Homo sapiens: one gene and its partners. The protein of the gene in region 2 interacts with the protein of the main gene of each other region in a pairwise test. Each region holds a gene or a part of one and is shown on either strand. Other genes may lie near its edges.

The links.
Region 1: the proteins of HDX (region 2) and CCDC57 interact in binary tests that used the Homo sapiens proteins (3 or more experiments, as listed by UniProt).
Region 3: the proteins of HDX (region 2) and LMO1 interact in binary tests that used the Homo sapiens proteins (3 or more experiments, as listed by UniProt).

Annotation. Positions count from the first base shown.
Region 1 is NC_000017.11:82,171,325-82,174,978, forward strand, and holds part of CCDC57 (coiled-coil domain-containing protein 57), read right to left. Parts: intron 1,537-3,654; coding exon 1,314-1,536; intron 530-1,313; coding exon 377-529; intron 1-376. UniProt on the Homo sapiens protein: Pleiotropic regulator of centriole duplication, mitosis, and ciliogenesis. Critical interface between centrosome and microtubule-mediated cellular processes. Centriole duplication protein required for recruitment of CEP63, CEP152, and PLK4 to the centrosome.
Region 2 is NC_000023.11:84,467,891-84,471,544, forward strand, and holds part of HDX (highly divergent homeobox), read right to left. Parts: intron 1,686-3,654; coding exon 582-1,685; intron 1-581.
Region 3 is NC_000011.10:8,253,837-8,257,490, forward strand, and holds part of LMO1 (rhombotin-1), read right to left. Parts: intron 1-3,654. UniProt on the Homo sapiens protein: May be involved in gene regulation within neural lineage cells potentially by direct DNA binding or by binding to other transcription factors.

The DNA of each region.
Region 1 (3,654 bases), on a different chromosome or scaffold from region 2:
TCCAGGAATTCCATTCACACCAAAACAGGGAGGGCTGACTGCAGTGAGGAGCCAGGGCACGTGGGCTCTGGAGGGAGCACAAGGAATTCCATTCACACCAAAACAGGGAACGCTGACTGCAGTGAGGAGCCAGGGCACGTGGGCTCCGGAGGGAGCACAAGGAATTCCATTCACACCAAAACAGGGAACGCTGACTGCAGTGAGGAGCCAGGGCACGTGGGCTCTGGAGGGAGCACAAGGGGCTGCTGGGCTGGATGACGCCGCCCCAACGTCTGCAGTAGCCTTGAGCTGTATATTTGCTATGAGCGGACTTTTGCAGGGGTCAGATTTCAGTTTATAAGGGGACAGCAAGTACCCCACTGAGACGCGGACTTACCAGTCGTCTCTGTCGAGGTGCGGACGCTGGGCTGAGACTCAGCATGAGGTGAGGACATCTTTAAAGGATCCAACACATCTTCTAGATGCTTTTCCAGAGTTTTAAACTTATGCTTTAGAGTTCGTATTTCTGCTTCAAGGGCCAGAACATAATCTGCCAAAAAAACCTCCAGTGAATATAACACATACACAGCATCCTTTCGCACCTCCCTCCTGTGAGCACCAGCTCAGGGAGCCGATGCCAGCTCATGCCCGCCAGCTTCACTGTCCCTGTCCTCCTCACACTACAGCTTCACCGTAGTTTCCACACTCTCTGTGTGTGTCAGACTGAAAGACCTTCCCTCCCCTCACTGGCCAGAGTGTGCCAGCCAGAGACCAGCACAGTCTCCATGCTCTCCAGGAAGGGCTCAGTGATCAGGAGCAAATGCTCCACCTGCCGCCAGCCCACGTGCCTCTGTGCAGAGGGGCCAAGTCCCATCTCGAGAACGGAAGCTCTGCCTCCATCCCGGCATCTGCCCACCCACAGCCACTCATGGGGTCCCTGGGGGTCGGGAGGCCCTCATCAGCTCTGCCACAGACGCTCCTCTGGAGGAAAGGACTGAGGTCCACCAGCCCCTGCTACCAACCCATTCTGGGACAGCGCGACAGCAAGCCAGCCCTGGTCCAGGTCTAAAACAGGTTTTTAAGTGTGTCAAGCAGGTACCCTCATTTTTTCCTTCCACTTTACAAATATAAAAGCTTTTTGGTATAAAACTTAAGATCCCTTCTCTTGGAGAAAAAGCAGTTTTCATACTTTGAGTTTATTACAGGGGATGTTAACTTATAGGACTCTGAAATGAAGCCTCCTTGAAGCCAGTCAAGACCCATGCTCCCGTCTGTCCTCCTCCCTCCCTCTCCCCCTTCCTCTCCCGCTCTGTCCGTTTCTCCCACTTACTCACCAGGAGTGGCGGCATCTCCCCCAGCCTCTGGGTCAGGCTGGTTTGCATCTGTGCTCTCTGCCGCTGTCTGGATGGGAGGAGGAATCTGATGGCTTAGAGCCTCCATTTCTTTCCTCATCTGGGCAATCGCGTTTCGCAAGCTCGTGTTCTGCTCTCGGAGCCGCTGGATCTCACTGGATGGAAAGTCTTTACTTATTTCTTCTTCATGCTGCCTGAGAAGCATCTGTCAAATACAAGGAAAAATGGCTACAAAAAGATGAATGGTTCCCCAGCTTGTCCTGACAGGCTGTGCCTCCGCTCTCCCCGCGCCCCTCTCGGGCCGGTCCCCCGCTTCAGCTTGGGCTGTGGTCCCTCCCCATCCCCAGGCTGTGATGCCCCTCCTTTCTGACAGAAGTGCAAATATGACACTCAAATTCCTGGAGCCTTTCATACTTTTGAGATCCCTAGAGTGTCCAATCCACAGAGGCAGAAAGTGGAATGGGGGTGCTGGGGCTGTGGGCGGGGAGGGGGAGCCAGTGTTTCTTGGGGACAGAGCTTCAGTATGGAAAGATGAGAATGTTCTGGAGAGGGTGGTGTGATGGCTGCACCTCCGTGTGAATGCGCTTCATGCTGCTGAACTGTGTGCACCAAAAAATAGTTAAAGCAGCCAGTTTTGCGTTATGTATACTTTAGTACAATCAAACATCCACTAAATAGGATGAAGAGCAGGTTCAGAGCGCGCAGAAGAAAAGGCAGTGAATATAAACACCTGGCAACAGAAAATACCCAAACTGAAGCTCAGAAGGAAAGGTGCCAAAGAAGAAAAAATGAGCAGAGCTCTGGAGACCATGAACAAGGTGCACAAGGAACCAGGAGCCCAGATGAACGCAAAGACAGGAGACGCGTCTACAACAAGGCCAGACATGTTACAAATGTGCTGAAAGCCACACATCACAGATGACGAAGCAAATGAGCTGAAAGCCGACATCACAGATGACGAAGCTCAGTGAACCCTAAGCAGGATAAACAGAAAGAAAATCATACCAAACAGCACATAATCAAGCTGCTGAAAAATCAGCAACAAAATGGAAACTCTAAAAGCAACCCGAGAAAAGAGACATGTTACCCTAGGGTCAAAGGGCAGGCATAGGGATGACAGACCCCGCAAGGAGCCACCAAGGCGGGAGGACAACGAGGTGAGGTGGCTCCGGTGCAGGAGGAGAGACAGGCCCCGCCCACCCAGTTCCTAGGGAGAGGGAGTGTCCTTCTCTAACCAAAGGTGAGGGGCGCTTCTGCCTCTGACCAGGAGGGACTCACTGCCATGAGTCTTTCCCTGCGGCTGTGAACAACTAGAACACCAGACACATTAGAGGAAACACCTGCTTCCAGACGCCAGCATAGACCCCAGATACGGGAGAGGGAAACAAAGTCCCAGGGTCTGGCCCAACTCAACCTTGAGTCCAGCCAAGATGTGTGCAAAAGGCACAGCTTCCTCTCCTGTGGAGCCACCCTGAGGGACGCAGAGCCTGCTCCCTACTCTGCACTCCATGAACACAAACCTGAAGCAAGATCTGGGCCCTTCCCAGGACGCTCTGACTGCCCGCTGGCTCCTCCGTGCTCCCTGGCAAGGCCAGCTGGCCTGGGCTCCCAGGAGGAGAGCTTCACACGCTGCGCTCAGGGGTGGAGAGGATGCGAACAGAACCTGCACCTCAACTGGCAGTTTAGAAACGGAGACAGTGCGATGCCTAACCCTGTTTTTACTCTAACTCGCTACTTTAAATTTTGCCCTGTTTGTCTCTTTAATCACCTAGCCTTGTTTCTCATGTAAATAAGACTCTCTCTAGCTGGGAAAGCCGGACAAACTCCAACTGACCCCTTAATTTACAAGACACTAAGGGCTCCTTACCCAACCCCCTTCCGCAAGGAGTTGACCTGTGTAAGCAGATCCTCAGCATTTCAAAGGAGCCCAATTAACTGATAAGGTACTGGCACCAACAACGTCTGAAGTTCCCAGGATTCTTCTCAAAGAGATAACAACATAAAGCCTTGAGTTCGTGTCCGGCATAGCATCTATGTCTAACTATAATGAAGGATTTAGAGCCCTGCACCTGGTACCGTTGCTTTTTGTAACCATTTGTCTTTTAAATTGTTTATCGCTCTGTAACCATTTGCTTCTTTTGATTCTTGCATGTTTTTACTTCTGTAGAATTATTGCCTTTGAGTTCCCCTCCCCTTCCTAAACCAAGGTATACAAGTTAATCAAGCCCCTTCCTCAGGGCCGAGAGAATTTTGAGCGTTAGCCGTCTCTTTGGCTGCCGGCTTAAATAAAGGACTCAATTCGTTTCAGAGTGTGGCGTCTTCT
Region 2 (3,654 bases):
TACTCAGAATATGTCTTTTCCCTATAAACATTTTTAAATGACTATTTGACTACTCTCTCACTTAATGTTTTAATAAAGCATTTACATTTCTAAAAAGCAGTTGGCTGAGTTACCATAGCCTCTGACTTATCAGCCATCAGCACCTAAAGAAATTATTGACTTGCCTGGTTATGTACCAGGGAAGCCACCACTCATCTAGTGACAGCTCCCCAAAATGCAACTGAAAACCATTATAGGAATAATCTATGTTCAAGATCATGAGCCCGACCAATTTAACCCTATTTTAGTAATGGGAAATTCCATGCTACCCATTAAGCTCTCATTTCCAGAACAAAATCATTTTAAATGCAGGGAAAGACTGCCATGTTATAAAAATGACTATATTCCATGAAAAAAAGACCTCATCATTTAAAAACATGAGAAACAAAGAACAAGATTCTTCAAGGAGTTAACCCCAAACCACCACTTTGAAGCAAAAATCTCACATTACTTCAATATATGAGTTAAGTGATCCAGGTCCCAAATCTAACTGGATACACACACAGTTTTTAAAACCTTTATAAAATAAATTTACACATTACCTGGTAATTGTTTTGGTTTTGTGATAATCTCAATTGGTTTGATGATGCAAAATGAGGAGAAAAATTACTCCGTAATGGATTGGTATTACTGTACATTGTACTAGATGCTGTATGTAATGAGGTCCGTGGTGTCAAATGGTAGTTTCTGTTTTGATACAGTACATTGTCTGACATATCTCTAATATTCACCATTTGTGAATTTGGCATATTTCTTCCTGGTCCGGGCAAGGTTGTACTTTGGTTCTCAGCTCGAAGGGAACTGCCACTTTCATAAAATCTCGAATAGCTTGGTATCTGTGCTCTCATCGATGCCAGCTCTTCCTCTCTGGCATATTCATCCTCAGCATCTCCAGTCTCCATTGCAATGGACAAACAATTTCCTTCTGCTGAGCTAGGCTTCTGTGGGGCATTTCCTCCCAGAATTCTCTGGGGGTAATCGCTAACTGCCAATGAAAACACTTCACGGATTTCCAAGTTTTGTGTTCTACAGTAAGGGTCTCTAATAGTTGGCTTTTGCCCACATAAGTTATGTAATGCTGGGCCTGTGTGTTCAGGCTTATATGACCTTTGAATCCCAACTGGTTCAATTTTACAAGGTCGGTGGCACACAGAAGGCTTTTGAGGTACTGTCATTTCAGAAGCTTGTACTGAAGAGTTTCCATAGTTTTTCTTTGCGTGATTGAATACTGAGTTTCCAGCATTTAGCACACTTGTCTGTCTTGACAAAATAATTGTTTTTTCACCTAGGAGTAGGGAAGCATTTTTACAGTGTGCTACTTGTCTTTGGACAGGAATGTGTAACTGAAACTCAGTATCATTTTTAGTGGCTGTTTTCTGAATAGGGATTTTATGTGCTTCTGTAATTTGTGTGTCTGTATGTTTGTTTGTTCCTTGCCTACTTGATGAACTGGCTGGACTGTATATACCAGTTACAATGACATCATTATTGGCAGATGTCCAAGAAGACTGCTGGCTTGAGGGTCGAGCAATATTAACCACATTTCTGACTGTGATGTCTGGAGCTGACAAAGAGGTTCCTGTTGTTGCTGTTCCAGATTCAGAGTTCTTACTACTCATCTTTCTTCTCTTATTGCCAACCCACGTCTGGAAGGATAAAACATGGTATTATGAAAAAAAAATTAAAAACAAACGAAGAAAAAACAAATTTTACGTGGTACATTATATTTTCATTTGTCTTGGAACCAAGGTGTACATAAAGGTAAAAGAAAAAGGTAAAATAACAGAAAAACTGACTAAAGTACAAAGGCAAAAGATGATCAGGGACTCACACTTAATAAATACCTTCAAACTTTGAAAACAGAGTGTATTATTGTTTCTCTCCTCATAACCCATCCAACTAATATGTATCAAGAAACCTAAAAATGTTTATACACTTTGACATAGTAAATACATTTGTGGTAATTTATCCTAAAAGTAACCTACAAATGTAGATAAAGTTTATATGCAATGATGTTCATCATATATTTATTTATAATACTGAAAAATTAAAAACATACTAAAGGTAGGCTATTTAATGGCATTAAGAAATGCTCATAGTATTGTTAAACAAATACACATTTGCAATCTTTAGACTCATCAACTTCCATTTTATAAATATATCATAACTTGCTTAATTTCATACTATCAGATTATTTATAGTATTTTTTGAAATATTCTTTCTTATAAGTTATATTGCCATATACCTCATCGTAGATGCATCTTTGTACTGCTGCTCTATTAGAATGCAATACTAAAAGAAAAATTGCTAGGCTCTAATATTTTCAAAGTGCTCTCCAATGTATGAGTTCCGGTTTCCTCACACCCTCACCAAGAGTTTGCCTTATCTTTTTGTAGTCTTTACTAGTCCAGGAGTTAATAAAAAGTGTATAATTGCTGCTTTGACATGAATTTCTATGGTTACAATATTACTTTCATAGAATTGCCTATCCATTACCTTTACCTATTTTTATATTGAGGTGTTTACCTTTTTAAATTGATTTGTATGCAAGAGTAATTTTCTACTAAAGTCAATAATAATTCTTTGTTACAAGCTGCAATTGTTTGTTTTCAGTTTGTCACTAATCTATGGTAGTTATTGTCTTCTTTACATTTTTCTCAACTTACCAAATTTTATACAATAAATATATATTTTGTAAACAGATTAAGATTATTAATAAAAATAATACTAGTGGTTGGTGTTTAGGATTTAATTACAAAATACATATTTTAATGTAAGTAATTTATTATAATTATCTTAGTATTATTTTTCTGAGTCATGGATCTTCTTAAATTATACAATAAGAAATATATTCTATAATGTGATTACTAAACTTTATAATAATTCCAAAATGCATACCATATTATAAACACCAAAGCACATTAATCTATTAAGAATTAAACAGGCCATGCACAGTGGCTCATGCCTGTAACTCCAGCTCTTTGGGAAGCCAAGGCAGGAGGATCGCTTGAGGCCAACATTTTGAGACCAGCATGGGCAATATAGTGGGACTCAGTCTCCACCAAATATTTTCCTAAAAAACGAATTAAAATAAATGAAAAATGAAAACATTAAATGAACTAGCCTTGAACAAACAATAGTTCAGAGTATATTTGTTTAACTTTTGTATGAATGTGTTTTTGAAGACCACATAAATTGTCCAATTTTCAATGTTTACTGTACATCTTATACAATTTATAATTATATACATTAGTGTTGCTGTACTACTGTAAATAAAAGCTAATATGTATTGAATCCCCATTATGTGTTCTCTCAATAGATAGATAGATAGATAGATAGATAGATAGATAGATAGATTTTCATTTGTCTTGGAACCAAGGTGTACATACAGGTAAAAGAAAAAAATAAAAAAACTAAAGTATAAAGGATCTCTAATAAATCTATAAAGGATCTATAATAAAGGATCTATAATAGATCTATCGATATAGAGTATTATTATTTTATATATTATATATATATATATAAACTCCTTTGGTAGGTGTTATTTTTCTAATTGTGTAAATGAAGAAACTGAGGTTCAGAAATAATAAATAGCTTGTGGAAGGGTATTCTGGG
Region 3 (3,654 bases), on a different chromosome or scaffold from region 2:
CCACTCCCGCCACACAATATTAAAATGTCAGGAGTTTAAGGCCTGCGTTGGTTGAGTCATAAGTTATCAGCACCCAGTGAGGGCCGACAGAATGCCTCCCCTAAATTATTAAGCAGAATGCGTCAGACTGTAATATTTTGCTAAACCAAAGTACAGACACAGACAAAGATGTCATTTCAATATTTGAAACCAGCAAGTTTAATTTAAAATAAGAGCAAACCAATAAGCTCAGAACATAGCGGCGTATGAGAGGAAAATTATACTGTGAGAGGAAAAAAAAGTGGAAGGACTTAAGAAATTTATAAAAGTAATCTCCAAGTGGAAATTAGAAATCAAGGCCTAGAAACAGAATAACACAAAAGAAATATTACTGTCCACTTTCTAAATCAATATAACACTGCTCCACGCCGGAATTACCATGGTAACTCAAGTAAAAAGAATCAAGCAATTCTTATTATTTCAAAATAAAATCACAGCCTGAAGCCTGGGTTTTATTACAACCACTGATAGATCGCTGGCTTGTATTTATCTGAAATATTGCTTTTCAATCAGCTGGTTTATGAATGTACACAGGCCTCTCACCAGCCCACTTACCACCCCATTTTGAGGCTAGGGGCCAACCAATGAATTGATTCTCACCTGGCTGCATCTGCATATATGCTCAGGTCTAAGTCAGCTCAGGGAACACAGAACATCACATCCTTTCAAGCCGTCTAGTGGCTTTGCAGGACAGAGAGGAAAACCTGAAAGAGGCAACGGGGACTGACCTGATTATGGTCCCTCCCCACCGAGGCTGGCCCTGGGAGGAATGGAGCTGGGCTCCCATGGCAGCCCCACTCAAACTGCCCACAGCAACCTTCCTCCCTCCCCAAGTCATCTTCTCACAGGTTCGTCACCCTTCCTTGAACTCTGAGTGTCTTTCTCTCCATCCCCACGTCTGACAGCTGGAAAAGGGAGCAGACAGAGCAGAGAGAGTGAGCGCACTGACTCTGCAGTCAGCCTGCTTGGGTTCACAGCCCAGCCCTGGCATTCTTGAGCTGTGGGAGCTGGAACCAATTACTCAATCTCTTTGTACAATAATTTTCTCATCTGTAAAATGAGGGTAATAGTAGCTTCTTCCTAAGGTTCTTATGGGTATTAAATGAGATTATACATGGAAGATGCTTGGTGGACTGATTACAAAAATGGCCCCAATTCTCTACCCTTCCCCACAGCCACACCATTTGTTATATGACTTTTCACCTCCTACCTTCAAGAGCAGAATCTGCTTCTCCACCCTTTGAACTTGGGCTGGCCTTGTGATTTATTTTGGCCGATAGAATGCAGCAGAAGCGACAAGATCCCAGTGCCAAACCTTGGCCTCAAGAAGCCTTGTGTAGGCTGGGTGTGGTGGTGCGCAGTGGCACAAGCTTGTAATCCCAGCACTTTGGGAGGCTGAGGCAGGTGGATCGCTTGACCCCAGGAGTTCAAGACCAGTCTGGGCAACGTAATGAAATCTCATCTCTACAAAAAATACGAAAATTAGCTAGGCATGGTGATATGGACCTATAGTCTCAGCTTGGGAGACTGAAGAGGGAGGATCACTTGAGCCCAAGAGGTCAAGGCTGCAGGAAGCTGTGATTGTGCCACTGCACTCCAGCCTGGGCAACAGAGTGAGATGTCTCAAAAAAGAGAAGGCTTTTGTGCTTCCACACCTTCCGGACCGGTCTCTGCCATAAGAACAAGTCGGACAAGCCTTCTGGCTAATGAGGGCCATGCAGTCTTGTCACGCCCAGCATCCAACTGATCAGCCATCCTCCATCCTCCAGATGTGAGTGAGCCCAGCTGAGACCAGAAAAACTGCTCAGCCAAGCCCTGCTTAAATCACTGACCCACAGATTTTTGAGTTAAATAAATGCTTATTGTGTTAAGGCTCTACATTTTAGGGTAACTGATTACACAGCAATAACTAATTGATACATACAGATAGCACAATGCCGCACTTTTTTTTTTTTTTTTTTTTTTTTTGAGACGGAGTCTCGCTCTGTCGCCCAGGCTGGAGTGCAGTGGCGGGATCTCGGCTCACTGCAAGCTCCACCTCCTGGGTTCACGCCATTCTCCTGCCTCAGCCTCCTGAGTAGCTGGGACTACAGGCGCCCGCCACCACGCCCGGCTAATTTTTTGTATTTTTGGTAGAGACGGGGTTTCACCGTGTTAGCCAGGATGGTCTCAATCTCCTGACCTCGTGATCCTCCCGCCTCGGCCTCCCAAAGTGCTGGGATTATAGGCGTGAGCCACCGCGCCCGGCCAATGCTGCACTTTTAAGTACGGGTTCAGTATAATGATAGCTATAGTGTTTTATGACTCCTAAAGACTGAGAGGCCAAAGCCAAAAGATGATACTGTAACTGTACAGAGAGCAATGTCAATTCATACAAGCATGAAACTTTCTGGTTTATCAAGTGTGTGCTTGGACATAAAGTGCCAGTTAGGTGTTTCACCCTTTGTAGGGATGAGAAAACTGAGGCCCAGTGCGCTGAAGTCACACAGCAGTCAGCTGGGACAAAACCCAGGTTTTCTGAATCATGCTAGCGGACTACACCTGTAGACAGGAGGCCACTCAAGAAAGCCCAGTTGACCTCCAGGGGAAGGGACAGGAGGGAGGAGCTAGTGACCTGAGCCCATGGGCCTTCACACTGGGCAGCTGCCTCTGCGACCTGGACCAATCTGCTCACTCCTCTCACACCACCTGCTTTTAATTTGCCCCCAGTTGTATCAGCTACTGTGAACTCCTGCCTTGGACAGAACACAAAACGAACACACTCCCACCAGTAGCGAACAAGCTTGTTGCTAGGTTTGGTGGATGTGTCTCTGAGCATGGCCTGGAATGGCCTGGGAGAAGCCTCAGCCAACTAAAGGAGAAAGGGCATGCCAGGCAAGGAGGACATAGGAACAAGGGAATAGAGGCAAATGCTGAGTCTTCATGGAACCCAAAACCAGAGCAGACATACTAAACCTGCATAGTTTAGTGTGATGGTCAAAGCAGCAGTAGGCCTCAGGCAGGATGCCAGGGTAGCAGAGGTTGGGTCAGACTGGTTGTAATGAGCACCACAAGAAAGATAGCAGGTGAGATGAGAATGGTGGTAGCAGAGGAGAAAAGGGTAGGTCCAGAGTCCCAGATGAATGCAATCCAGTGGTGTGCTGATGCATGCTTAACGACCAAGTCTTTGGGAAAATGCCCTGATTTGTAGTGTTTGCCAACATCCATGGTACAAATACTCCCATTGTGGCTGACTTCAAGCTACCAATGCAGTGTCTCTGAACTCAGAGTTGGGAACAGATGTACAGAATCTCTTGCAAGCCAGGACAAGTTGACTCCACTGGTGTAGTCCAATCCCAAATATGGGCCTGCTGGGAAAACTCACTCTAGCAGCACCACAAAGAGCTAAGCCTGGAAATGGGAGGACACCTTGCATGTCTCAGTGTCCTCCAACTCCAGACAGGACAGGCAAGCAAGATGGGACACATGCCATAGGAACCTCTGGGGCTTCTCCACTTCCAAAGGCCCAGGACAGGTGAGTGTCCCTCAGCACCTTTCACCTTACATCTGAGGATAGAACTGCATCTTCTGGGCTGTCAGTAGGCTGGCAAGGGGCATAACTGGGACACCCAAGCA